Linked DNA regions of Homo sapiens. The protein of the gene in region 2 interacts with the protein of the main gene of each other region in a biochemical or structural test. Each region holds a gene or a part of one and is shown on either strand. Other genes may lie near its edges. The genes, in order: LIN7A, SLC34A1, DLG5, FRMPD3, SNTG2, DLG2 and TJP1.

What was found.
Region 1: the proteins of SLC34A1 (region 2) and LIN7A interact in a test that uses a peptide from one of them, tested with the Homo sapiens proteins (one large-scale study listed by IntAct).
Region 3: the proteins of SLC34A1 (region 2) and DLG5 interact in a test that uses a peptide from one of them, tested with the Homo sapiens proteins (one large-scale study listed by IntAct).
Region 4: the proteins of SLC34A1 (region 2) and FRMPD3 interact in a test that uses a peptide from one of them, tested with the Homo sapiens proteins (one large-scale study listed by IntAct).
Region 5: the proteins of SLC34A1 (region 2) and SNTG2 interact in a test that uses a peptide from one of them, tested with the Homo sapiens proteins (one large-scale study listed by IntAct).
Region 6: the proteins of SLC34A1 (region 2) and DLG2 interact in a test that uses a peptide from one of them, tested with the Homo sapiens proteins (one large-scale study listed by IntAct).
Region 7: the proteins of SLC34A1 (region 2) and TJP1 interact in a test that uses a peptide from one of them, tested with the Homo sapiens proteins (one large-scale study listed by IntAct).

What each region holds. Positions count from the first base shown.
Region 1 is NC_000012.12:80,808,617-80,812,613, forward strand, and holds part of LIN7A (protein lin-7 homolog A), read right to left. Parts: intron 3,068-3,997; coding exon 2,849-3,067; intron 1-2,848. UniProt on the Homo sapiens protein: Plays a role in establishing and maintaining the asymmetric distribution of channels and receptors at the plasma membrane of polarized cells.
Region 2 is NC_000005.10:177,383,158-177,387,635, reverse strand, and holds the start of SLC34A1 (sodium-dependent phosphate transport protein 2A), read right to left. Parts: upstream 3,203-4,478; 5' UTR 3,149-3,202; intron 1,942-3,148; 5' UTR 1,895-1,941; coding exon 1,786-1,894; intron 1,650-1,785; coding exon 1,500-1,649; intron 1,416-1,499; coding exon 1,287-1,415; intron 1,214-1,286; coding exon 1,070-1,213; intron 1-1,069.
Region 3 is NC_000010.11:77,804,491-77,808,487, reverse strand, and holds part of DLG5 (disks large homolog 5), read left to right. Parts: intron 1-543; coding exon 544-692; intron 693-1,559; coding exon 1,560-1,730; intron 1,731-2,316; coding exon of another isoform or gene 2,317-2,392; exon of another isoform or gene 2,393-2,589; intron 2,590-2,626; coding exon 2,627-2,823; intron 2,824-3,997. UniProt on the Homo sapiens protein: Acts as a regulator of the Hippo signaling pathway.
Region 4 is NC_000023.11:107,557,417-107,561,413, reverse strand, and holds part of FRMPD3 (FERM and PDZ domain-containing protein 3), read right to left. Parts: intron 1,158-3,997; coding exon 1,021-1,157; intron 688-1,020; coding exon 561-687; intron 1-560.
Region 5 is NC_000002.12:1,359,510-1,363,506, reverse strand, and holds part of SNTG2 (gamma-2-syntrophin), read right to left. Parts: intron 1-3,997. UniProt on the Homo sapiens protein: Adapter protein that binds to and probably organizes the subcellular localization of a variety of proteins. May link various receptors to the actin cytoskeleton and the dystrophin glycoprotein complex.
Region 6 is NC_000011.10:83,471,530-83,475,526, forward strand, and holds part of DLG2 (disks large homolog 2), read right to left. Parts: intron 1,249-3,997; coding exon 1,198-1,248; intron 199-1,197; coding exon 97-198; intron 1-96. UniProt on the Homo sapiens protein: Required for perception of chronic pain through NMDA receptor signaling. Regulates surface expression of NMDA receptors in dorsal horn neurons of the spinal cord.
Region 7 is NC_000015.10:29,710,672-29,714,668, forward strand, and holds part of TJP1 (tight junction protein 1), read right to left. Parts: intron 1,740-3,997; coding exon of another isoform or gene 1,689-1,739; intron 330-1,688; coding exon 160-329; intron 1-159. UniProt on the Homo sapiens protein: TJP1, TJP2, and TJP3 are closely related scaffolding proteins that link tight junction (TJ) transmembrane proteins such as claudins, junctional adhesion molecules, and occludin to the actin cytoskeleton.

The DNA.
Region 1 (3,997 bases), on a different chromosome or scaffold from region 2:
TGCCTCAGCCTCCTGAGTAGCTGGGACTACAGGCGCCCGCCACCACGCCCGGCTAATTTTTTGTATTTTTAGTAGAGACGAGGTTTCACCATGTTAGCCAGGATGGTCTTGATCTCCCGATCTCGTGATCCACCTGCCTCGGCCTCCCAAAGTGCTGGGATTACAGGCGTGAGCCACCACGCTTGGCTCCCAATAAATGTATTTTTTAGGATAGAATGCAATTTTAGATAAAGATACTAAAATATGGTACATATAATAAAAATAGCAGCCTATGAAAGATAGATAGATTGTTGAATTCCCAGGATTGTTGTAGGACAAATCCCTATCTTTTCCCCCCTTTTCTGTGTAGCTTCTTCTTTTCATTTTTTTTTTTTTGTGGTTTTTTTGAGACAGAGTTTCACTCTTGTTGCTCAGGCTTGAGTGCAATGGCTCGATCTCGGCTTACTGCAATCTCCATCTCCTGGGTTCAAGCAATTCTCCTGCCTCAGCCTCCCAAGTAGCTGGGGCTACAGGAGCTAATTTTTGAATTTTAATAGAGATGGGATTTGACGATGTTGGTCAGGCTGGTCTCAAACTCCTGACCTCGTCATCCACCCACCTCGGCTTCCCAAAGTGCTGGGATTACAAGCATGAGACACTGCTCCCAGCCTGTAGCTTCTTCTTTTCACAAGTGTCACAAACAATTAAAAGCCTCATGTTATATCCAATATTTCTGTTTGTGCAAATAGTAATCTGATGTTGAATGACCTAAAACCACTATTACCCACAATCATTTTTCCAAGAATATTTGAAGTTCACTTCAAATACACATTCACAGACATCATAGTGTAAAGGTATCTAACAATATGAACTGTCTTCTCCAAAGGATAGCAAGGAAAATTTATATAACTCCAGAATATCTGATGTTGGCAGATGAAAACCTGATGGAGTAAAAAGGAAAAGAATTCTATGTTTCTGTAAATGCAGTCATGGGAAATCCACTGAAGCTATTTTAGCTTCATATTTTCATCTAAAAAACTATTTATTGATACTTGCCTTGAAGGTTTTTTTCTGAGGATTAGGGATAAAATGTGATAAGGGCATAGGGCATAGTAGGAACTTCTAAGATGGGGTCTCTTAACATTTTTTCTTCAATTCTCTTGATAATATACAGCAAAACCTGATTTAGTGTTCTTTGTTACAAAGTGGAATTTAGAAAAAGGCAGGAGAATCTTAGACACATTTTATTTCTACTTTACAACTTTTTCAAAACTCTTAAAGTTTTATTTTTCATTGACAAGTAATAATTTTATATATTTATGGATTATAATGCGATATTTCAATGCATGTATACATTGTGGAATGATCAAATCAGGCTACCAAAGTTGTTACCACAAATACTTATTGTTTCTTTGTGGTGAGAATATTTACAGTCCATTCTCTCAGCTATTTTGAAATATGCAATGTAGTATTATTAACTATAGTTACCAAGTTGTATAATAGATCATCTTAACTTATTCCCCTTCTACCTAACTGAAACTTGTAACCTTTAGCTAAGACCTTTTCCCTTTTCTCTGTCTACCCTCCTCCCCCAGCCTCCCAGCCTCTGGAAACCACATTCTACTCTCTACTTCTATGAATTAAAGTTTTTCAGATTCCACACATAGGTGAGATCATGTGGTATTTGTCTGCCCATGCTTGGCTTATTTCACTTAGCATGATGTTCTCTAGGCCCATCCACGCTGACAAAAATGACATTTCCTGCTTTTTAAAGGCTAAATATTAAATGGTATACATCTGTGTGTGTGTGTGTGTGTGTGTGTGTGTGTGTGTGTGTGTGTGTAGGTAGATATAGATATCTATCACATACTTACCACATTTAAAAAATGTATTCATCCCTTGATAGCACTTCAGTTGTTTTCATATCTTAGCTGTTGTAATAATGCTGTATTGAACATGGGAGTGTAAACATCTCTTTGACATATTGATTTCAATTCCTTTGAATATCTCCCCAGAAGCAGAATTGCTGGATCATATGGAATTCTATGAACTTTTTTGAGGAACCTCCATATTGTCTGTCAAATTGGCTGTAGCAATTTATATTCCCACCAACGGTGTACAAGGGTTCCCTTTTCTTCACATCCTCACTAGCACTTGTTATCTTTCCTCTTTTTGATAATAGCCAAATTAAAAGGTATGAGGTGATATCTCATTGTGGTTTTAATTTGCATTTCTCTGATGATTAGAGATGTTGAGCATTTTTTCATATAGCTGTTGGCCATTTGTATGTTAGACACACTTTAAAGGAGCATCCGCAGAGAACTTCAGAATCTCTTACAGCATAGACAGTGGCAGGTCTCAGCTTCATTCTTTTCAGTGGGGCACTTTTCCAATAAATTGTATCTCAGTATTCTAAAGGAGATCTTTCCAGGGTCAGCACTATAAGGTTGTGCAGTTAATACACTGTGTAAAGGCAACTGGCCAACAGGGTGAGTGAGGCCTGGAATCCAGCCCACACTCTTCTCCTTAGGATCTGGGTTTGCACAGAGGCTGCATTTTCTTAATTTGTATAAAAGCATCCTAGAGCCTGTACTTGCCCCTTTCAAAGTATATCATTTTCCAAATTATCTTATATTTGTGGAGAATATAGCTGAATGGCACATAAACTATCTTGCTTATATACTTTTAGATCACTGTCTTTTGTTTGATTGATTTTGTTTGGATTATTTAAATCTAATGATTTTGTTTCAGCTAAGAAAATATATTTTAGAACATATCTAAAATATATTTTAAGTATATTCATATATACATATATGTGTGTGTGTATATATATATATATACTCCTTGTATAGAATAAGTCACTTCTCACCTATGACATGTGGTTTTGTTGTGTTTGTTGCTGCTGCTGCTGTTGCTGCTGCTGAATTAGCAATTGCTGCTGCTGCCGACGCCTGGCTGTTCGTAGCTTTTCAAAGCGAGCCTCCATTTCTTCCAGAACTTTTGGGGTGTATCGCACCACCAGCTTGACGCTGTCTTTAGCAGCCTTGAGTAGTTCCACAGCTTTCTCATGGTGTTCTCCTTCCACACTCTGAAAATACAATGACACTTCTTAAAGGGAGGAGGTTCAATGTTCTTTTCCCTGGAGACAAATCTGAAATTAATATCACATTAAGAACCCAAAATTTAAAATTTTAAGAAAACATGGCAAATGAGTTATCTTACCATCATCGTTATTATTTATTACATTGTGGTTAAACTATAAGCAGGTTAGGCTGCACTAGGTCACAGAATGGACTGTGTGGGGATTCAGGTCATAAGGGTGAAAAGCAATGAAGACCTAAATTATAATGCTAACATTAGGAATGAAATTTCCAAATTTTATCTGGAAGAGTAAATGCACTAGTCAACAAAATTTTGAAAAAAATTAAAACATAGTAACAAAGAGAAAATTTCTGTATCAGATATTAAAATTTATTAAGAATCTACAATGATTAAAGTGGTGTCTTATTGTGTGTATAAAAGAGATAGTAGAACATAGCACAGAGTCCAGAAGGAGAGTCATCACATGGAAAGCTTTATTTATTATTAATGTGGACTTTAGACCAAAGGAGAAAAGGACTATTAACTAAATTAAATAATACAAAATAATGGAGACTCAATCTCATACACTATGCTAAATATAACAGATTAATTAAAATTTAAATGTAACATAAAAACATAAAGTAACTAAAATAAAAGAAAGGTGAACATTAATCATTTTTCAATAGAAAAGGAATTCTTAATTTAAAATGCCACAGGAAAAATAACCACGAAATCAGATGTGCACAGTGTAAGTTTCTATGTCTCAAACACTGTAAAAAAAAAAAAAAAAAAAAAAAAAGGCAAACCAGAAAAACAGTTTCAGTATGTGACTGTCATATACTTAGTGCAAAAGGGTTTTTTTTCTGGTTTATTTGCCCTTTTTTGTTTTTTTGAGACAGAGTTTCACTCTTGTTGGCCAGGCTGGTGTGCAGTGGCC
Region 2 (4,478 bases):
GCCTAACGTTGGCGTCACAGGTGCATGTGGGCACGGGCTGTGCGTTTACAGGTGTGTGCATTCATCCATGCGAGTAGATGTACACGTGCTGCACATGGTGTATGGATGTGAACGTGTGTGCGTGTGAGGCCTTCGTTATGAGGGCTCGTGGGCTCATGTCCTATGTGCAAATAGAGATTTGTGCTTGTGTGTGCACACATGCCCCAGAGTGTGATGGTTAGTTTTTTTGTTTGTTTGTTTTGAGACAGAGTCTCGCTCTGTCGCCCAGGCTGGAGTGCAGTGGCATGATCTCGGCTCACTGCAAGCTCTGCCTCCTGGGTTCATGCCATTCTCCTGCCTCAGCCTCCTGAGTAGCTGGGACTGCAGACACCTGCCACCACGCCTGGCTAATGCTTTTTGGTTTTTGTTGTTTTTTTTTTTTGTATTTTTAGTAGAGACAGGGTTTCACCGTGTTAGCCAGGGTGGTCTCGATCTACTGACCTCGTGATCTGCCCCCCTCAGCCTCCCAAAGTGCTGGGATTACAGGCATGAGCCACTGCGCCCGGCCAGTGATGGTTAGTTTTATGTGTCAACTTAGCTAGGCTGTGGTACCCAGTTATTCAACCCAACACTAGCCTGGGTGTTCTGTAAGGTGTTTTGTAGATGCAATTCACGTCTACAGTCAGCTGACTTTAAGAAAAGGAGATTATCCTTGGTAACCTGGGTCAGCCTAATCCAATAGAATGAAAGGCCTCAAGCAGAACTGAGGCTTCCCTGAGAAAGGAGAAACGCTGCCCTGTCTGGACTGCAGTGTCGGCGCCCACCTGAGAGTTCCCGCCTGCCCTTCCAATGCCCTGGCCTACGGATTCCTGACTTGCCCAGACAAACTACCATCGGGGAAGCCAGTTCCTTGCCATAAATCATCTGGGTCACATACAGCTACAGTTGGGCTCCTCTCATGTCCCTGGCTGATACAGGAGTCAAGCTGAATGGAGGCCAGCCTTACTGGGGTCACGCTCCCCATTTGCCACCCTTCCCAGCTCCTGGGGTGCCCCTCCAAGCTCTTCCCCACCCTGGTGGGCCAACTCACAGCCAGAGGAGACCATGCTGACGATGATGGATGTGGAGGTGCTGGAGCTCTGCACCAGCACGGTCACCAGGATCCCCACCACCAGCCCGGCCACCGGGTTGGACAGGATGGCGTTATCCTTGAAGATGTCACCAGCCACCTTCCCTGGGGAGCATGAGCCAGCGTTGTCCAAGGCCCTTCAGGAACCCCTCCCAGGTCTCCTCCACCCGGGCCCTACCTCCAGCCAGCTGGAAGGCCGAGCTGAGCATGTCCAGGGAGCAGACGAAGAGGTAGAGGAAGGTGAGCATCAGTGGCACCTTGAGCAGCATGGCGCCAGCCTGGCGCAGCTTGGGGACCAGCCTGGACTCTGGATGGGGGAAGCCATGAGCATAGTGGGCAGAGGCCAGGGCAGGGACTGCTGCCGCCTCTGCCACCCCCAGCCCAGGCCCACCTGGCTTCTGCTCCTCCTCCAGGGCCAGCTTGGCAGGCAGTGGTTCATGGCGCTCCAGGACCTCCCCACAGGGGCAGGTGTGCTCAGCAAGGGCCACAGGGCCCAGGCTGGGGAAGGCATAGGCAGAGGTCCCCGGGATCCTGTGTAGGACTAGGGAGGGAGCCTGGTCAGGAGCCCCAGGGCCCCAAAGTGGGGAGGCGGGGAGGAACAGGCGGGGGAAGTGGCCTCATCCGGGATGTGGGCAACCGTGGGCAACCAGGGTCCAGGGTGTGGGAGCAGCACTTACCCTGAGGGCTGGGCACGTAGGCAAAGGCCGTCCCTCGCATCACATGCCCCCCACGGACTGGGAGTGGGGAGACAGCAGGGGACCCCAGCCTCTCTCCGTAGGACAACATCCTGGGCACCCACTATGAGGTCTGCAGGTCAGTGGGTCTCAGCAACGCTGAATGACAATAGCTGTGTCCGGGACACTCATGCCCACACACCCTCACCTGCACAAACCCCCATGGCGCATGATTCCAAATACACACCTAGCAAAGCACACCCTCCATCCTCACCACACACACACACCCCTCCGAGACTCACACGCACAAACACACACCCAGCAAACCACACCCTCCATCATCACCACCACAGCCCTCCGAGACTCACATGCAGACTCACATGTGCACATCTGTGCTGGGCACCTGCATGTGAGTCTCGGAGGGGTGTGTGTGGTGGTGGTGAGGTGATCATTCATTCACCATTCACTCATTCAATGAGTATTATTGAGCTCTAGCCCAGGCTCCGAACCAGAGGCTTGGATATAGCATTGATAAAAGACACTGAGAACTGAGGACGCCCAGCCTGTTTGGGGCTGGAGGGGGCCAGGGAATACGTGGTGTTGGCAGTGGCTGCAGGTGTGGGCTGGGGCTGGGCCGGGCTTCAGTTTTGCCCACCTGGAGAGCAAGGAGGAGCTGCAGACACCTGCCTTCTCATGGGGTCAGCTGGGCACACACGGAGATCCCCTGGGCCGGATCCCGAGTTCCTGGGTTCCCCTCACAATGAATTCCTTTCCCCATCCACCCCCTCAAGGGGCAATGAACAAACACTGACAGGCTTGCCTCAGCCCCCCCTTGTCCCCGCACTGCCCCAGGAGTCTTGGCTATTGGGGTGGAGTGCCCTGATCTGCCTCAGCACTCCCCGCATTGTCCCAGCGTCCTTGGCTGTTGTAGGGGTGTGAAGAGTTGAATTCAAGTCCTGAAGGAGCAGGAGTCCTTTTTTTTTTTTTTTTTGAGATGGAGTTTCACTCTTACCGCCCAGGCTGGAGTGCAGTGGCACAATCTTGGCTCACTGCAACCTCTGCCTCGTGGGTTCAAGCGATTCTCCTGCCTCAGCCTCCCAAGTAGCTGGGATTACAGGTGCCTGCCACCACACCTGGCTAATTTTTTGTATTTTTAGTGCAAACTCGACCTCAGGTGATCCGCCCACTCGGCTTCCCAAAGTGCTGGGATTACAGGTGGGAGCCACCGCGATTGGCTGGACTGACATGTTATATGGGGCGCGGTGGGGGTGGGCGCAGATAGGACACAGATGAAGGGGCTGGGGTGCTGGGCTGTTTCCTACTCAGAGCTGGGGGTGGGGTTGGGATGTGAGGGTCCTGGGCTCACCTTAGAATTCTGTGTTTCAGCTTCTGCTCAGCAGCTCAATGAAGCCTCCAGGACCCTGAGGAGAACTGAGACCCTCCTCTTTATACTCTTGGGTCAAGGGCAAAGTCCCTGGAACCCTAGCTGCCCTCCCTCTGTCCCCCAATTAACCTCACCCCTGAGATTCCTCCCAGTTAATTGCTAATCGTCAGCTCTGCATGGGGAATCTATGGTCAGGTTCTTCCCATCAACCACGACCCAGACACATCCCCCGCCTGCAGGCAGAGACCCTGATGCCACTCAGCACCTTGTTCCCAGGGTCCCCTCGTTCCTGGCCTGACAGGACTCCCCAGGGAATGACCCAAACATCCTATGGCCTTCGGAGGTTGCAGTGAGCCAAGATCGTGCCACTGCACTCCAGCCTGGGTGACAGAGTGAGACTGTCTCAGAAAAACCAAACCAAACCAAACAAAAACATCCTATGGCCTTGCCAAGCGTCGGGGTGTCTGTAAGTCTCCCAGGGGGAGCTCAGAGGAGAGGGAGTGTGAGATGAGGACCTAAGCTGGAAAGGCCGTGGAATGTTGAATCGTGGCAGGTCTCTAATGCCCGACCATGGGTCCAGGATGTGAGTCTGAGTGAATGTGGAGCCGCTGGCCAGACTGGGATGGGCCTGATCTGCCTTTTAGAATGGCCCCCGGGGTGGAACCCGGATATATGGAAGGGAGCCTGGAAGCGGAGGGGCCAGTTAAGAGGCTAATGGTCCAGGCAGGAGATGATGAGGCCTGAACTCCGATGGGAACGGAGGGGCTGGGGAGGACAGGTGCATCCCAGGGACATCTGACCAGTAGAATTGGTGACGGGGAGGGAGAGAGGAAAAGGAAATAGATGGGAGTCGGGTCTCTGGATCTTTGGCTAGGGCTGGGTTCATGCCCAGGTAGGAGGGTGTCGCTGAGTCACGGAAATGCAATCAGTTCTCAGTTCTTGTGTCAGAATCTCTGGGTCCTTGGGCTTGAAGGTGCTGTTAATGTCACATCGAGTGTCTCCACCTATGAGCAAACTGACACCCCCACAGCGGGCCCAGAGACCCCGGCCCACGTGACCTGTTTCTCTCCATTCCCCCGTGCAGTTCAGACCCTTGGCAGGAGCAGCTGAATCCAAGGTGCTCCTGGTGAACTGGGGGTGTTTCTCCTTTTTAATAAGGTTGTGCTTTTTGATATTTTTGAAGTTTGCCTTCCCTGCTGTCACGGAGCTCTGGGTTTAGTGGGGGAGGCAGTTAGCTATCGATCAAATCCATCAAGAGATATAATTCCAAAATGCTGCTGATTTACACAGCCACCACTTCTAAAGATTTATT
Region 3 (3,997 bases), on a different chromosome or scaffold from region 2:
CCGGCCTGGGCAACATAGTGAGACCCTGTCTTTACAGAAAACAAAACAAAAAAATTAGCCAGGTGTGGTGGAGTGTGCCTGTTGTCCCAGCTATTCTGGAGGCTGAGGTGGGAGGATCACTTGAGCCTAAGAGGTATAGGCTACTGTGAGCTGTGATTGCACCACTGCACTCAGTCTGTGTGACAGAGGGAGACCCTGTTTCAGAAAATAAATAAATAAAAGCACAGGCAACATCAGCAAGAGGAAGGTCCCTATTCTGAAAAGCCCAGACTTGCCAGTCACCAGAACAGGGTTTTTCCTGGATAAGCTGTCAAGGGCAGGGCAGCCACTTGGCAGAGGACCTGGTGTCCAGGGAGCATGCACAGGACCTGGAGACTGGGGAGACCATGAAGACTCAGTCCTTCCTGCAGAGGGGAGGTAGCCAGAGTCTCAGTTAAGGAGGGATGTTGAATTTCTGCCGTATGGTCAGCACTGGCCCCTCTCGGGTGCCCAAGCTGCCCCCTGGCTTCTGCCTTCTGATGCATCCACCCCCATCCCTGGCAGTATGGCAGCCTGGACGTGCGGAACAAGACAGTGGAGGAAGTCTATGTGGAGATGCTGAAGCCCAGGGATGGCGTCCGCCTGAAGGTGCAGTACCGCCCTGAGGAGTTCACGAAGGCCAAGGGCCTGCCTGGTGACAGCTTCTACATCAGGTACCAGTGGCTGGGGAATCGGTGGGAGATTTGGAACCAGAGGAGAGGCTTTCACTGGAGACTCTTTTCCTGGTGAATGGCTCTCTGTTTCTTGCCCCCCAAGGCTGGGGCCATGATCATCATTCCTTGACACTCAATCTGCACGCTTATTTATGTTGAGATGATTGTGACTTAGAACAACCCTTTAGGGCTTAAAGAACCAGCTGGGCCCCCTCTTTAGGGCTTAAGACCTAGAGAATTTGGAGGCAGTCAAGCCCCGTTTTCCTGTGTGCTGTGCTCCTCTTTTTCTGGTGTCCCCCAAGCCAGGTTTGCAGATCCCTCTGCAGTGTGTGTGGACTTCCAGGCATCTTCAGTGCCCTTACTACTGTATGAAATGCTGTGGGCATTTAGGGATGGCAGCAGGCTTTCTAGGAGGAGCTCAGAGCTTTCTTCACATTTCCTAAGATCCAAGATCACAGAAAGCATGAGAACACTGATGCGGTACAACTCCCTGTCTCTAGGGTAGAAGATGACATATTTCCATCCTAGAGAGATTCCAGTCTGTAGGAACCAGGGGCCGGGCCTGGGCTTCGAGGAGGGAGGCAACTGGGAAAGGCCACCTGGAAAGGGAAGTTATGGCCTCAGATCTTGGTGAGTTCTTTGATGGGGATGCGCCCTCAGTGTTAGGGGAGCAAAGGCAGTCTTTGCCCCTTTATGTAAAACACAGGGCTCCCCACTTTGAGAATCACCACCCTCGGCGATTCCTGATCAAGTTTGGAGACAGCCCAAAGCAGAATGGCAGCCTTAGGGGCCTGGCCACAGAAGGCACCTGGTTCGTCCTTGGTGGCCAGAGCCGCCTGATCGTGTTCCTTCTGTGCTGTGGTCCAGGGCCCTGTACGACCGGCTGGCAGATGTGGAGCAAGAGTTGAGCTTTAAGAAGGACGACATCCTCTACGTGGATGACACCTTACCCCAGGGCACGTTCGGGTCCTGGATGGCTTGGCAGCTGGACGAGAATGCCCAGAAGATCCAGCGCGGGCAGATTCCCAGCAAATATGTGTAAGTGTTCTCCGGGCCTGGGGTGGGGTGGGGCAGGGGTCGCCGAGGGCCACCAGCCATGGAGCTGTCCCATGGGAGGGGGCTGGGGCCAGGGCTGCTGGAGGAGGGATTCTGCTTCTTATCTTAGCTTCTGCTCTCTACATTTTGCCAAAAGTGCTGGTCTAAAAAGCTGCTCCTAGTGTGAGTCAGTGCTGTATAGAGCACAGTGATGGGTCAGAAGGCATAACGTGTTTTAGAAAAATGGATTTATGGAGATACTCGTGCCTTGCCGCTCCCTCAAAGTGTACCATTCAGTGGTTTTCAACATATTGATAGGTGTGTGCAGCCGCCACTACAGTTAATTTTAGAGCATTTCCATCACCTCAAACAAACCCCAGACCCATTAGCTGTCAGCCCCTTATCCCACTGTCCTCCCACCCAGCCCTCAGCCCTAGGCAGCCACTACTTTACTTTTGATACCCATGGGTCTCCCTGTCTGGACTTCTGTGTGGTTGGGATTGCATAGTGTGGCCTTTCATCTGGCTCCTGTCACTGAGCATGTTTTCGAGGCAGCCTGCATCCCTGCATCATTTCCCTTCTATGGCAGGAAGCGTAACTCGTCATGTCACCAATTGAAGGCTGTCCTAGCAGTTCCTTTTGACACCGAGCTGAATATGCTGTAGTAGAAAAAATCGCCTGCTCTGAGAGCTTGCCCTGGTGCTGGTGTTTGTGTCACCCCCGCAGCATGTACCGAGGGTTCCCAGGGGCGTGGGAGGAGATGTAGCCTTGAGACCTGCCAAGGAGTGTGGGGGGAGCCCAGTGTCTGGCCCACCTTTGCTTTTCTCACCAGGAAGGGCAGGAAGGGCAGGGCAGCAGGGTCTCGATGGCCCTGCCCAGCATTGTCCCCTGTGCCACAGGATGGACCAAGAATTCTCCAGGAGGCTCAGCATGTCTGAAGTCAAAGATGACAATAGCGCCACAAAGACGCTGTCAGCGGCTGCACGCCGGTCCTTTTTTCGGAGGAAACACAAGCACAAACGCAGCGGGTCCAAGGACGGGAAAGACCTGCTCGCCTTGGATGCCTTTTCCAGTGACTCCATTCCACTCTTTGAAGGCAAGTGGCTGAGCTCATTTTCCAGTGGGCTCTCCAGATGGGGCTTGCTGTGGATCCAGGAGCTCCACAACAGGGACTTAAACAAAAGAGAGTCTTACTTTGCTTTTGTGCGCAAGTCTGAAGGTGTGTGTTCGGCTTGGTCGGGGGGTGCTGCCATCTTCAGAGCCACATCTATGGGGTGTGGCTTCCATCCTCCCAGTCACCGCCTGTCAATGCAGCTGCAGCCATCATGTCCCTGTTTCAGGCAGCAGGAGGAAGGAAGGAGTGGTAAGGCAGAAGTGTGCCTCAGCTGAGCGTGCCTCTTTCAGCAGCTATCTGGAAGCCCTAACCTGTGACTTCAACTTGCATCTCATTGTCCACTTGCATGTGCAAGAGAGGTCAAAAAGGCATGTTTTGGCCAGGCACAGTGGCTCACACGTTTAATCCCAGCACTTTGGGAGGCTGAGGTGGGTGGATCACCTGAGGTCAGGAGTTCAAGACCAGCCTGGCCAACATGGTGAAACCCTGTCTCTATTAAAAATACAAAAATTAGCCAGGTGTGGTGGCATGCACCTGTAATCCCAGCTACTTGGGAGGCTGAGGCAGGAGAATCCCTTGAACCCAGGAGGCGGAGGTGCAGTGAGCCAAGATCACGCCACCGTACTCCAGCCTGGGTGACAGAGCAAGATCCTGTCTCAAAAAATAATTAAAAAGAAAAGGCATGTTTTAGCTGGGTGCATTGCTGGCCTCAGTAAGAGGTTCAGTTACTGAGGAAGAATGGAGGGATAGCTATTGGGTAGGCAAGAAGCAATCTCTGCTGAGTGCCTTGCTTGCCATTTGTTTTTAGGTTCTTACAGGCTGCTTGGTAGTGACCAAGAGCTGTCGGTTTCTGCAGAACTTCGGCATTTCTGGCCTCAGTCCTGTGTTCATGAACAAGTCTTGTATAATCCTTATGGAGCAAGATGCTAGTCCAGGGCTGGAGTTGAGTGATAGGAGATGTCAGACATCCCCTGGTAGACAGCCCTTGTGGAAAGGATGCATTTGTCCTTTAAAGCAAGAGGCCCTTAGGAACGTGGCTCCCAGGGCCCTGGTGTGTGTCTACTGTCTACTGTCCTAGAATGTGCCCTCCCTGGCAATCAGGTGTGGGGGTGGCAGTGAGCAGCAGAGTGTAGGGCAGCTGGCTGCCTCCCTCCCT
Region 4 (3,997 bases), on a different chromosome or scaffold from region 2:
ACACCCTAGGACTGATGAATTAGAGGTACAGAGGTACATTTCCTTTTTTTACATTTTTTTTAAATTATTTTTTTAAAAGTAAAGACGCTGTCTCACTATGTTGCCCAGACTGGTCTCAAACTCCTGGGCTCAAGTGATCTTCCTGCTTTGGCCTCCCAAAGCGCTGGGATTACAGGCATGAGCCACCACACCAGCCTAGTCATTTCCATGGAAAACATGTGCCTCCCTAGGGTCCAGTGCTTTCCACATGATACATGCTCAGTCGGCACTGACTAATTGGTGAAAAGGACCTGAGAATTATCTCCTGCATCTTGGCCCCTTTGCTTTGAGGACCCTGAGCTCTCTCAGTGATGTGTCACTCAGCTGTCTCTTTGGGATGCTCAGGCTTGGGGAAGACTCCTCTCCACAACTGCCCCACACCTGGCCAAGCCGTATGTGCACCTGAGTCAAAAGCAGTGGTGAGGATCCCTAGAGGACCAGACTCTGCTGGGAAACCACCCAGGATCTCCCTGTGGCCAGTAGTGCCTGGAGCACCATGCCCAGTGGTCTACTCTGGATACCTTGGTGCCGCAGGAAGGATGTGTTTGGTGAGCCTTCAGTTGCTGAGAGAGAGATTTCCGGAGGTTCTTCTCTTTGATGACCTGCAGGAGGGAGGGGGGAAGAAAGGGTTCCAGGCCCCACTCCTTCCTAAAAGCAGAAGAAAAGTAAGAGATTAGTGAGAGAGGCAAAGTGGGACAGAGAGAAGATGGTAAGACAGAAATTGACTGAATCTGAGAGGTAGAGATGGAGGAATAGAGACTGGGAGAAAGAAAAAGGGACAGGGATAGGAAAATAACATTAGCCACAGCTCCCTAGTAGAAGCTGTAGCTCTAGGGCTTCATAGTCTAGATATGAGGGACTCCAATTCTCACTCCCATCCCATGTCCTACATTTCTGAAAAGCATAGCATAGCTCAACCAGTGTACCTTTTCCCTACGCAACTATTCGCCCCCCATCCCAACGGGCCGCAGCACAACTCACTCCACATTCTTGAGCGAGATCTTCTGACTAGGTCGAGTGGCTGAGACAGTGATATAGATGTGGAGCGCAGCAAGGCCCAAAAGCATCTCTGGCTTGGGATCCATTCCAAAGCGTTCTCGAATAACATCATTCCGACTCTGTGAGAGAGGGCAGTCCAAACCTATCAGCTGAAGGAGACATTCCTTCCCCACCCCCTGATCTACTCCCTTACATCCCAGACAATACTCATAGTATCAGTAAGGCATGCTAGATCAAGGGACAGAGGAAGGAGCTCCCCTTGGAGAAGAGACAACAGAGGAGGCTCAGGTCTCATAGACACTGTTCACTTTATTCAGCAGATACTAGATAGCCTTCTCAGTGACAGGGGCACACAATGGCAAGGTACAAGCAGACAGTCCAGTTCACTGCAAAAGTGAGACATGGCACCACTCCCTTTCTTTCCTCCTTTTATAAGAGACTTTCCTACTTTTTTTCATGGGGGTTATACTCACCCCCAAGCCATACAAGGCTCCTTTACTAGCTCAGATGGAAACAAGGGGAGAAAGATACTGGGAGGGACTCTCCACAGGGCCCTGGCCCAGAAGCCCAGGGTGAGAGCTGAATTGCAGGGATGGGGGAGGCATTCTTCTTCTTGGTGTCTGAAGGACAAAAATGTTGATGAGTCAATCTTCCCTATGCTATCCTAGAGGAGGTCTCCAGGAACTACTGGCCAAGGGTATGACAACCCCCAAACCCTGAGGGTCACAGCCCCAGCTATCAATGAGTCAGCCTTGGTTAGACCAGTTTCCCATTTTGTTAAAGTGGAACCAGTATGGACTAAGGGACTAGGAAGCCACAGTGATATCACTATAATATAGGAGAGAGTGGAAAAGGAATACATCATCAATGATCATCTATGTAGAAAATTCAGTGGATTCTATTACAAAAAACTACTACAACTACAGTTTTCCCTTGGTATCCATGGAGGATTTCTTCCAGGACCCCCATGGATACTGAAATTTGTGGATGCTTAAGTCCTTTATATAAAATGCTGTGGTATTTGCATGTAACCTATGCAAATCCTCCTGTATACCTCTATCACCTCTAGATTACTTATAATGCCTAATACAATTAAAATGCTATATAAGGCCAGGTGCAATGGCTCATGCCTGTAATCACAGCACTTTGGGAGGCGGAGACTGGTGGATTACCTGAGATCAGGAGTTCAAGACCAGCCTGGACAACATGGTGAAACCCCGTCTCTACTAAAAATACAAAAATTAGCTGGGCATGGTGGCGGGCGCCTGTAATCCCAGCTACTTGAGAGGCTGAGGCAGGAGAATCACTTGAACTCAGGAGGTGGAGGTTCCAATGAGCCGAGAGCGAAACTCCATCTCAAAAAAAAAAAAAAATTGCTATAGTGCTATGTAGGCCAGATGCTGTGGCTCATGCCTAAAGTCACAGCACTTTGGGAGGTTGAGGCAGGTGAATCACTTGAGGTCAGGAGTTTGAGACCAGCCTGGCCAACATGGTGAAACCCTGTCTCTATTAAGAAATACAAAAATTAGCTGGGCGTGGTGGTGCATGTCTATAGTCCCAGCTACTTGGGAAGCTGAGGCAGGAGAATTGTTTGAACCTGGGAGGTGGAGGTTGCAGTGAGCCGAGATCATGGCACTGCACTCTAGCCTGGGTGACAGAGCGAGACTCTGTCTCAAACTAAACTAAAATAAAAATGCTATGCAAATAGTTATTATATTATATTTTTAAATTTTGTATTTTTTATTATTGCACTGTTATTTTTTATTGTTTTTGAATATTTTCAAAATCCACAAATATGGAACCTGTAGATATGAAGGGCCAAATGTAGTGAGTTTACCAAGGTTTCAGGATATAAGATCAATACACAAAAATCAATTGTATTTCTATTCTTTTAAAAATAAATCTTTTTGTATAGAGATGGGGGTCTCACTATGTTGCCCAGGCTGGTCTTGAACTCCTGAGCTCAAGTGATCTTCCTGCTTCAGTCTCCCAAAGTGCTGCAATTACAGACGTGAGCCAACATGCCCAACCCCAACTCTATTTGTATATGCTAGCAAGAAATAATTGAAAATTGGAATTAAAATCAAAATCATTTACAATAGCATCAAAAAATATGAAATAATTAGGGACAAATCTGACAAAACATATGAAAGACCTATATACTGAAAACTACAAAATACTGCTGAGGAAAATTATAGAAGGTATAATTAAATGTAGAAATACTGTGTTCAGGGATTGGAAGGCTCAATATTGTTAGGATGTCAATTGTCCCCAAATTGATCTATAGTTTCAACACAATCCTAATCCAAATCACAGCAGGTTTTGGTAGAAATTATCATGGTGATTCTAAAATTCACATGAAAATGCAAAGGACCTATAATAGCCAAACCAACTTTGAAAAAGAACAAAGTTGGAGAACAAATACTTCCTGATTTCAAGAATTATTATAAAGCTCCAGTAATCAAGAGTGTGATGTTGACATAACGACAGACAAGTAGACCAACAGATCAGAATAGAGAGTACAGGAATAGATCTATATATATATATATATATATATATATATATATATATATATATAGACAACAGATTTTTAACAAAAGTACAAAGGCAATTCAGTGGAGGAAGGATACTCTTCTCAACAAAAGGTGCTATAACAATTGGATATCCATATGCAAAAAAAAACACACACACACACACACACACACACACACGAAACTTTGATGGATACCTTGCACCACATACAAAAGTTAATTCAAATGGATCATAGGCCTAAATATAAAACTGTAAATGATAAAACATCTAGAAAAAAATAGGGGAAAATTCTTGTAACCTTGGGTTAGACAAAGATTTTTTAGATATGACACCAAAAGCACTGTCCATAAAAGAACAAATTAGCAAACTGGACTTCATCAAAATTCACACATTTGCTCTGTGAAAGACGTTGTTTAGAGACTGAAAA
Region 5 (3,997 bases), on a different chromosome or scaffold from region 2:
GGAATGAACAGTCCAATATGTTGGGTTAGGGAGTGTCAGCCTAATACAATGACAGAGAGAGGCTCTCCCAAAGTTTATTTGGGACTATGTAGGCAATTGCAAGCTGGGACATATGTGCTATAAGAGATTATAGGGATATCCAAAGAGGCTGGGATTCAGGAAAGCTTAAAGGCAAAGTGAGGAGGTTACAGAAGTTGTTTTGAAACCGTTATCCTTGGCTACAAGGATCAATAGCAAGGGGAGCTTGTGTCCTCATAGAAGACTTGTCTTTGCACAAGGTTGCAGTGGTCTTTGTGCAGCTTGTGGTGTTGCCAGGGTCTTTTGTGGTACTTCTTGTTATCAGGTAAATATTCATGGTTCCTCTTTCATGGGGGGGGTCCATTTTGTGAGGGTTTCACAGGAGTCATTCCATCTCAGCGCCGGTCACTTTCATGGAAGTTCTATGGAAATGCTCAGCATCGGTGACTTTCATGGAAGTTCTACTGAAATGCTCAGCGTTGGTGACTTCCATGGAAATTCTACTGAAATGCTCAGTGTCAGTCATTTTCGTGGAAGTTCTACTGAAATGCTCAGCATCGGTGACCTTCGTGGAAGTTCTACTGAAATGCTCAGCGTTGGTGACTTTCATGGAAGTTCTACTGAAATGCTCAGCATTGGTAACTTCCATGGAAGTTCTACTGAAATGCTCAGCATCGGTGACTTTCACGGAAGTTCTATTGAAATGCTCAGCGTCGGTGACCTTCGTGGAAGTTCTATTGAAATGCTCAGCGTCGGTGACTTTCACGGAAGTTCTACTGAAATGCTCAGCGTCGGTGACCTTCACGGAAGTTCTACTGAAATGCTCAGCGTTGGTGACTTTCATGGAAGTTCTACTGAAATGCTCAGTGTCGGTGACCTTCATGGAAGCTCTACTGAAATGCTCAGTGTCGGTGACCTTCATGGAAGTTCTATTGAAATGCTCAGCATTGGTGACTTTCACGGAAGTTCTACTGAAATGCTCAGCGTCGGTGACCTTCGTGGAAGTTCTACTGAAATGCTCAGCATCGGTGACCTTCATGGAAGTTCTACTGAAATGCTCAGCGTTAGTGACCTTTGTGGAAGTTCTACTGAAATGCTCAGCGTTGGTGACCTTCACAGAAGTTCTATTGAAATGCTCAGCGTCGGTGACTTTCACGGAAGTTCTACTGAAATGCTCAGTGTCGGTGACCTTCATGGAAGTTCTATTGAAATGCTTAGCGTCGGTGACTTTCACGGAAGTTCTACTGAAACACTCAGTGTTGGTGACCTTCGTGGAAGTTCTACTGAAATGCTCAGCATCGGTGTATCTCATGGAAGTTCTACTGAAATGCTCAGGGTCGGTGACCTTCGTGGAAGTTCTACTGAAATGCTCAGCATCAGTGACTTTCATGGAAGTTCTACTGAAATGCTCAGCCTCAGTGACTCTCATGGAAGTTCTACTGAAATGCTCAGCATCAATGACTTTCATGGAAGTTCTACTGAAATGCTCAGCATCAGTGACTTTCATGGAAGTTCTACTGAAATGCTCAGCGTTGGTGACCTTCATGGAAGTTCTACTGAAATGCTCAGCGTTGGTGACCTTCATGGAAGTTCTACTGAAATGCTCAGCGTTGGTGACTTTCATGGAAGTTCTACTGAAATGCTCAGCATCCGTGACTTTCATGGAAGTTCTACTGAAATGCTCAGCATCGGTGACCTTCATGGAAGTTCTACTGAAATGCTCAGCATCGGTGACCTTCATGGAAGTTCTACTGAAATGCTCAGCATCGGTGACCTTCACAGAAGTTCTACTGAAATGCTCAGCGTCGGTGACTTTCATGGAAGTTCTACTGAAATGCTCAGCATCGGTGACCTTCGTGGAAGTTCTACTGAAATGCTCAGCGTCGGTGACTTTCATGGAAGTTTTACTGAAATGTGATGGTATCAACACAGCAGCATTTCCCAAAATGTGTTTGATATTAAAAAGTTATATTTTTTAAACACTCTTTGTTTGCATAGATTTGGAGAAAAGTAGATTGAAGAAGGCGGGATACTTTTGCTATTGTGGAACTTCTCAGCCACCTCACTGTGTTAATTGCACTGTCTGTCTCCAATAATGATTTGCCATGCTGTGGTTTTCAAAATTCTGTGAGTTTTTTTTTTTAAATGGGTCAACTTGATGACCATTTATTAAATTCCATGAGAATTTCGTGCTACACACTCAATGGGACAAATCATTGTAATGTAAATTTTCTTATTGTTGGTGGAGAATGATGTAATCATAATGTCACAGGCTGTAACAAATAAAAGATGTTTACATGTTTATTTAAAGCTTCACGTTGGCCCCCACAGATGGGACAATGGAATCTGAATCCAGTGGCTGAAGCACAGAAGGCAAAGCTAGAAAAAGCACTGAGGCTTGGACCAAAGGCCCCAAGGACGCAGTTTACTGCTCAGGGCTGTGTCTGAGCTGACTGAGTTGATGGATGCTAGTGGAATGGAAGAGACAGCGCTGGGGACTGCATCAGCTTTGAATATTCCATAAGGTCAGAGCCTGTGGGTGGGATCTCCAAAAGAACTCTCTTAAGTAAGACAAAAAACCACTGGGACACGCAGGTGACTGGAATCGTTATGCAGAATCAGGCTCCAATGGTAGGCCAAGCAGACACTGCTCTCTTATTTAGAGACTCCATCTCTACAAATATTGAAAGAAAAATCACTCATCCCCTTCCTGAGTGAAGGGTTTGCTCATCTGTGTATGATGCTGGATGTAGGGGGGTGAAATCAGACACCGTATGTTTGCTGCTTCTGTCTGAGTGAGAAGGAAAGAAAATCCCCTAGGGACAGACTTTTTTTTTGTTTGTTTGTGTTTTTAAGAAAAGGAAATTAAAAACACTAGAGTAGCCTCTTTTAGTCACACAAATATAAGGGAAATAGAAAAGGCAAGGAGCTTCCCCTCACTTGTTGTGGCAGGTGCCAGTGCACAAAGAGTCCAATAACCTTCTGGAAATAAAAATATCTTGATCCTTTTGAACTTCCACCCTATACCTTCCTTCTAAGCTGTGCTGCTGGAAGGAACACACCCCAGAGAGAGCTCTCCTGAACAGGCTGGGCTGGTGATCCAGGCTTCATACAAGATCCTCCACTCTGAGGGCAGAGAGGGAGGCATGCTTCCAAAGCTGCGGTGGCTGGAGCTTTCTGGCACAGGTGAGCTCAGAGCACAAGGGCAAAGCCTCCAGATGCTGGGAAAGCCAAGAAAACAGACTGTCCCCCAGAGGCTGCAGGAGAAAGCAGCCAACACCTTGATTTTAGCCCTAAGAGACAAGTTCTTAGAGAACTGTAAGAGGATAAATGTGTGTCTCTAATCTACTATATTTGTGTTAATTTGTTAAGCATCGATAGAAAATGAATACAGATAACTTCTTTCAATCATTTAATGTACTTTTTTTTTTCCTATGGGAAAAATGGGATAGAATTTGTTCAGTGCCCTTAAATGTAAAGAAATGAAGATAAATAACCATTTTTGGTTGAATAAATTGAGCTTTAGTTTCTTTGTTTGCTTGTTTTTGGTAATATTGTTAAATGGAAAGAAGATATGGACAAAGTAAAATGTTTCTCAATATTACTACAGAAAGGCAGCATTCTAATGAAAGAGAAAAAACATGCAAAGAAATAAAATAAAGATTAGTTTATGGAAGCACATAACCAAAAATGGCAGTGGGTTTATTGGTGGACTAGAACCTAAATAGAAATTCGCAATTTAAGGATATTGATGTTGTGTAAAAGCAGTCATCTTTCCCAGCATGTAAAAAGCCATCATATGTGCTGATAAATAATATTATTTTTGAGTCTCAGCTTCTCTATCCACAGAAATTAGAGTGGTGAAATAGACAACAACAAAAACATTGAGACCTAACTATATGTTGTGTACAAGAGACTCACTTTAGATTTCAAGACACACATAGGCCAAAAGTGAAGAGATGGAATAAAATATCTCATG
Region 6 (3,997 bases), on a different chromosome or scaffold from region 2:
GGAGAGACTACTGGAGGATGGAATTACATTTTACCATCTCATAAAGAAATCCAAGCTCTTTTTGTTTTTCCTAGAGGAAAGAAAAATGACACTTACGAGGCACACAGGAGCCAAATTTATCAGGGAATTCAGATATCAAGTCGTCATTGATCCGATCCTTCATGGGCCCCAGGATAATCACCGGCCGGGTGTAGTTTACTGCAGAATGGGAAAGGAAGATGTAGGTAAAGAGAAAGAGTTGGAAACAACTGCAAAACTGTCCTGCAAGGGTGATTCTTAATTGCCAGACAGTAAGAGATGCTAAGGGCATTACTTCACTGGATAAATTACTCATACAGCCTTGCATAGGGAAATTGATGTTTAACACTCAGGAGATTGGCAGTGCCTACTTTCTGGAATCTACTAGCAGGGAAAGGCAATTGCAGTATCTGTTGATGAAAAGAAACATTTGGAGGAGTTTTGCTTACTCTCTGGCTCTGCCTACATAATGTCAAAACAACTGAATTTAGTCAACTGAGTGGGAGAAAAAAGAATCCAAACCAGCTGTTTGGCTATTGTTTAGATATGACTATAAAAAGTAATTGTTAGTAGTAATAACATCTTATGTTTTCATGATTTCTTTTCCCCAGATCAAAATACTCTCTATACTTTGCTACAGTTTCTAGATTTCCTTGTATCTGGGATTAGAAGGAACCTGAGAGTTCATTGGGTACAAGTCCCCATCTGATGCTTGAATTCTCTCTGCAGTATCCTTGTCAGTAGCAATTAGCCTCTGTATAAATGCCTCCAGGAAAAAGCAGCAGCTTACAGATAGCCTACATCTTAGGCAGATCTGCTAGAAAGTCATTCTCAATACTGAGCTGACATCAGTCTCTCAGGAGAATTTATTCACCAGTCTCGTAGCTAGTGCTCTTTAGGTAATTTGAATGTGTTCCTTCCCATTGAGGACCACTCATCTGGAGGGCTGCATCCTTCTCTTAGGTGCTATTAGTGCCCATACTCAGCAGGAAGTTGTCTGTTTGGTGATAGGGTCAAAGAGAGAGAAAGTGAGAGACAGCGTAAGAGTAAGGTACGGTCTCAAGACAACAGAGCATTAAGCCGAGTTTATTCTCCTTAGTCCTTCACTCTTTCCCTCCTTCAATGATGTCACCTCTTATGGCCCAGAAATTAGGAATGAAAGCGTGCTGGGAAACTTACTTTCCTGCCTTGTAACAGGCTCATAGGAAAGAATGAGGTCTTCTTGTCCTCCTGAGAAGAGAAGGAAAGAAAACCACAGTGAACTAACAGTCATATATTACAGAGACAAGCCCTGCTCTGAAACACAGGAAACAGACACAGCTCAGAGTTAATTCTCCTTGCTCTTTCTCCTTGAACCATTCAAAAATAACTTCATCCTCATAAAACTCTTTAGCACCATTTTAGTATCAGATTTTCACAGTCATAACTCTAAGTAATAACTGGTTGCTAGCTATTTGCTGCAGGGCAATGACCTGTGAGACTTCTTTCTGTCTGGCATTGAGAATGGAATGCCATGGCCTCTACACCAAGCATTACTACTTAAAAGGAAGCCATTTAGTTCAAGGAAAGGGTCCAATTCAATAGATGGCTGCTACATAATCAGAATTGCTGTACCTTTTATTTCATCTTCTATTTTATTTCCCCAAGAAGCACACTGTTCAAAAGCAAGTATATGCTTATTTCATTTATGATATAAAAACTTCATCAGGACACTCAGGGTTTTACTCTAATATTAATTCGTCAGGAAAATGCTGTGGGTCAATTAATGAAGATCAAAAATTGAGGTGTGTCCTACATCATTGGTTATAATTGCTGCTAAACTGTGCGTTGAAACTTCAGATAGAGAACTAAGGAAGACACAGTAGTAAAATGTCAGCCCCTCCAATGTCATCTGCTACAAGCCTTCTGACTCAGGGTGGACCTCAAGTCAACAAATAACCATAGAAAGTAAATTGGTTTTTGCCATTTATTTTTTCAATCATCTATTTTATATAATTGATGAATTAATTGGTCAGAGGATTAGCTCAATTTCACCTGCAAACCCGGAAGTGTCTGCATTTTTTTTTGCATTGACTAACCTTTGGAACAGCAATAGGTTAGGGCTGTTGAAAAGAACTTTCTGTCTACTAGAAGAAATAGTGGAGCAGAAGTGGAATATGAGGTAACTTCTGAAACCAAAGGGCAATTCACCTTTGCTGTATATCCTCACCACCCACCCCTGAAGCACATTCATAGTCTATCAATGCCAGGTTTTCCTCCTTCAACAGCCACAGCACCACAGAAAGAGAGGTAATTTCATAAGAAGAGTTAATATGATCGACTGTTTTGATAATGAGACTGATTTGGGGAAATTGAGCAATATGTGGGTATAGCTGCGAAGTTGGATGACTTCCTTGGAGGCTGGGTAGCTGGAATGGGATGGGGATAGGAGTGTCTTACTTTTTCAAGTGTGAGAAATGGCCTCAGGCTGAAGTCATATCTTATCTCAGTCCCAAGGAGGGCCTGGGCTCAGAATGGCGCCACCATGCCAAGCTACTTCTTAAGGGTACAGAGAGTGGACCTTGATGCTCCTCCTAAGTGGTATGTACCCATGGCCACCCCAGAAGTGTTCAGGGGACTCTGCCACATTGGTCAGGGGTTTGGTCAGTGAGGAGTCAGATTCACTATTTCTTGTACTCAGGAAAAGAATGATTCCCTTTGAATAAACTACTGAAATGTACAGAGCCTAGGCCAAAAAACATGAAGGTGATTGATTACTAACCCCCAGTTATCTAAAGCCTGAGCGATGTAGAGGGTATACGCATTCAAGGTTTTAGTTTAGTATTACTTCATCAGGAAAATGCTGTGGGTCAATTAAAGAAGTGTAAAAATTCTTGGGGAGAAAGTATAGTTTTAATGATAGAAGCATCGTAGACTAACATTGCAATTTTAGACTATAACTTTACAGGGGAAATCTTCAACAATTAATGTGCAAGGGAAGAATTCTGACCATGGGATAACAAAAGCTTTAAATGTCAGGTAACTCTTGGACCTCCTTATTAGGCTGGGAGTTTCATAAAGGCGAGAACTGAGTTTTATTCATCACCATGTCTCCAGTGCCCCATTGAGTGCTTAACATAAAGAAAGATGTCAACAAATTTGCATTCTGATTTCAGTCATGGGAAACAGGATGAGTGATGAGGCCAACGGTAGGTTCTATTTTGTGTTTCTGTCAATATGGTCATTTAACTTTGGAAAGCATCGTTTTCTCTAAATAAATAGAGCACATCAAGTTCCCATAAAAATCTCTTCCCAATGGCTTTGCAAATCATTCTGATGGAACGTTCTAAAGGCAAATCTTTAATAAGATATTTGATGTCAGTGTGTATGATTGCGATTCAGACAACTAGGGCAAAGCATAGCTTTGATTAATTTTGTTCAAGAGTTCTCTATCTCTGTCTATCCATCACTTCTTGGTTTACTTTTCTATGAAAGGCACTGGTTCTGGTTCTGGTTCAGAGCAGTAGTGTTGGTAGACAGCAATGGCAGCATCCCTTATGTCCGGGCCACCCCAATTCTCAAGACCTTGTGGCAATCAGGTACTGTGTAATACCCAGGAAGCCTGTGGGGAAACCCGTGGAGGTGGGCATGACATAATTGCTGTGAATTCAGCATCTTAAACTAATTTTTACTTCCATGTCCAAGAATGAAAAGCCCTATGGGTAATGAGGAAGAGACAAAGGGAAAGAGAAAAAGCCACTGTGATGAAGGAGAGAAAATTCATGTCTTTGTGGCACTTTGCGGGCCTTGAGGGGCTTTCATACCCACTGGCTTTTATGTCTCACAGGCATTGCTTGAGGTAGGTACTCTGATGATCCCCATTTTACAGATGAAGAAGCTGAGGCTCAGAGATGTTAATGAGCCCTGATTCCTCAGCTAGTAAGTAGTGGAGTCAAGATTTAATACTGCACCTTTTTCAACTCTTGTGGAGTATATTGCA
Region 7 (3,997 bases), on a different chromosome or scaffold from region 2:
AGGAGACATACTTTTAACAAAATTCTTAGTTTTTACTGTTCCCAGCCCAAAGGTTTCAAGCATGTATTTTTTAATGTAAAAACCATTTTGCCTAGAAACCACCAGAATTTTACTTCATAAGCATTACTGTGTTAAAATGTCTACTTCCGAACTTCCTACCTTCACCATGTGCTCCCTTAGAATGTATGTGGAGAGACGCGCTGGTGACAGGCTGAGATGGCTGGGCATACTGCGAGGGCAATGGAGGAGGAGGGGGAGTGGCCTGGATGGGTTCATAGCGTTTCTCGCCAAATGATCTATCCACACCATCAGCTTCAGGAGGCTTTCCCCTGTTAACAAATGAAGAAAATGCCAACACCTGAAAATGGACTCACATTTACAAAACAAGTTCTCATTTCTCCATGTATCTCTAAGTTAAAAAAAAAAACTAGAAATTTCACAATTTATTCTCATGAGTATGGGTAGCTACTCTACCAAAATATAAAAACAGATTCGACCATTCATCGGCACAAGAAATGTCCAGACACACAAAAACTTTAAGAATATTAGTAAAACATCCAGAAGATGGCAACCAAAGGCAGGTGAAATTTTGGGTATAGTTTAATTGTTATTTACAAAAGATAGTAATGTTGACAGATTTAAGAAAGTCTTGCAAATATTCTGAAAACATATCATGGCACAAATTTTCCTGAGACCCACTTTTTTTGTTTTTGAGACAGGGTCTCATTCTGTCGCCCAGACTGGAGTGCAGTGGCGCGATCTCAGTTTACCACAACCTCTGCCTCCCAGGCTCAAGTGATTCTTCTGCCTCAGCCTCCCGAGTAGCTGGGATTACAGATGCCAGCCACCACGCCTGGCTAATTTTTGTACTTTTAGTAGAGATGGCGTTTCACCACGTTGTCCAGGCTGGTCTTGAACTCCTGACCTCAAGTGAGCCGCCTGCCTCTGCTTCTTAAAAGTGCTGGGATTACAGGCATGAGCCACCGCACCCGGCCCTAGACCCACTTCTGATTTTGTATCTGGCATCTGGCATACTCGGAGCACCATAAAAACAGATGTCACAGACTAGGGGTTGGCAAACTTTTTCACTGAAACACCAGAGAGTAAATGTTTGTGGTCTTTTGGCCCATACAGTCTTTGTTAGAACTATTCAAATTATGCGGTTATAGCCTTGAAGCAGCCACAGACAATGGGCATATCTGCGTTTCAGTAAAACTAAAAAAACTGGAGCTTTTACTTTAAAATTTCCCCTTGAGTTACCAGGTCCATTTTTTGGTTAAATGACTGCTAGAGCAGCAGATCCTGCTTTATTTTACAAGGTTCATTTAAGTCAAATTGTGCCATGTATGTTTATTTTTTCAGATTGCCAATTGTTAATATGTAACACAAAATTCACACAAATCTTTTTAAAAGACCCATAATTGCAACATTGCCATCTAAACCTTACTGCTGAATGCCAAAGCTGCACTAGCTTTATGTGCACCAACAATAACATATACATTTGGAATACTCCTGGTCATTTTCATAAATTTTCATTGAAGAAGTCTTATGATTGGCTTTTTTATCTTGCTTTCATGAATTTAGACTAAGCCCTTGATGATGACATTAAAATCTGAAAGTGCACATAATGCCAGTGACACAGTGAGGGACACCTTATGGAACAGCCTCACATTAATTGCCAGTCTTACCACTTGACGTTCCTTTTCAAGTAGTCATAGCTAGTGTAAGAGCCAAGAAATCTAGGTGATGGCAAAGCAAGCGCAATAGAAAAATGAAAGAAAATGGTCAATCTAACTAAGTAAATTTGCAGCAAATGGAACTCAAATGTCATTTAAAAATATCAACCAACATCCACCATTTCACCATAATTTGGTCTATAAAGGAACATATCACTAACTCTCATTTGGCCAAGGAAATTGAAGATAAATAAAACACAATCACTTAGTTATGTCCCGTCTGCTGGCCCATCCTTCATGTACTTTAACTGTTACTGCAGTGAAAAGCAATGTGTTTGAACTTTGCTCCTTCTCCACCTCTGTTGCAGCTGCTAATAGTGAGCAAAGAAATTTATCAAATCAAAGAGTGGTGATCAAGGATAATTAGCAGGTTCTGAATAAGTGGGAGTGACATGTCCCATTAAAAAAAAAAAAAAAAAGGCTGGGCAAAGAAATTCTGCAAGTGAAGACACAGGAAAAAGTAACACAACAGAAGAGCTACATTGAGCCCCTGGGAGGGGAATGGTAAATGGAGAGATAGAAATATGCCTGGCTTGAAACCTGGCCAGGCTTCACATGTTCCTTTCTAGCAAGACCTCCTCCATCTCCAATCGTAAGCTGGGCCCTGTGGTGGTGGAGTCTTACTGGTGAAGCTGCATGCTTGATGCTCAGGCTCTCTCTCATCTAATGATGTCTCACAAACACAAAAACAACTGAACATCAGTCTCTCACATTTAGTTCTTTAAAAGCTACAAACCACCATCATTTATTGAGACCTGGAAGTCTCACATAGTGAGTTGAGTCCTGAAAGGTAGATTTGATAACAAAAAATCCCTGGTTGTCCTGAAGAAGTTGACTCAATCTCTGGACTGAGACATGTGCACAGCCCTGGAGGGACACTGCTCTTCTTGCACTGTTTTAGAATCCTGGAAACTTCTAATTTACTTTGGAGGTGAATGTCTAAGCTACTGTCTCCTAACCTTTCCAGTTCTAATCCAGCTCTATGGAACTGTTAGACTGGGTAATATCTGCTTGCTTCCTGGGGCATCTGTCCTGTGCTAACAAAGATTATTTTCCATATCTAATTCTCACCATTTCTGAGGTGTGTTTTTAAGTGAAGCATAAGCACACATCATCTGAAGGAAGAAAATTTTGCTACTCCTGTATTTACTGAAAGAAAGAAATGCCTGAAGGCAGTCTTATTTAGTGACAAACAGTAAATGGTTTTGAAATGCAGGACAGAATCCTATATTTTAAGCTATTTTCCAGTTGATGAAGTTGTACTCATTGGACAAGAGTATGAAAAAGCATTACAAGGGAAACTTACAGAAACAACTACCCTCTTAGTTATCTTCCATGACCCTTATTCTCCTTTCCATTTCTCTAACCATTAAATACCTATATGGGAAAATGCAGCACAATTATAAAGAGTTTCAATTTCACACTACAAAGGAAAAAAAAGTATACTGGTATCCAGCCCAAACTATACTTTTCTCTCTCACAGCAGCAGGGAGTAAAATCAAACTGAGTTCTGAGTAAATTCACAAAGACAGATGTCATCTGTTTCACAATATATCCCTGTGAAAACAATGACCAGGTAATACAGGTTCCTTCCAGAGCTGTGTTAATGAAAAGAAGGGTGGTGGATGCACCTAGTATACCATGCCCTGTTTTGAGCTTCATTCACTCAACAATTACTGAGCCCCTACTGCATGCAAGGCAATGTTCTACACCCTAAAGTTATACATCACAAATAAGCTAAGTCTTCTTTCTAGAAAAACAAATTAACACAGAAAGCAAACATGCATTTTGATTGATTCCCTGGCAAAACAACTTACTTTTTAGACCTAAATATACTCCTTTTTTTTTTTGAGATGAGTCTGGCTCTGTCGCCCAGACTGGAGTGCAGTGGCGCGATCTCGGCTCATTGCAAGCTCCGCCTCCCGGGTTCATGCCATTCTCCTGCCTCAGCCTCCAGAGTAGCTGGGACTACAGGCACCTGCCACCATGCCCAGGTAATTTTTTGTATTTTTAGTAGAGACAGGGTTTCACCATATTAGCCAGGATGGTCTCGATCTCCTGACCTCATGATCCACCCACCTCGGCCTCCCAAAGTGCTGGGAGTACAGGCGTGAGCCACTGCGCCCAGCCTTTTTTTTTTTTTTTTTTTTTGAGACAGAGTCTCACTCTGTTGCCCAAGCTGGAGTCCAGTGGCACGATCTCGGCTCACTGCAAGCTCTGTCTCCCGGGTTCACGCCATTCTCCTGCCTCAGTCTCCCGAG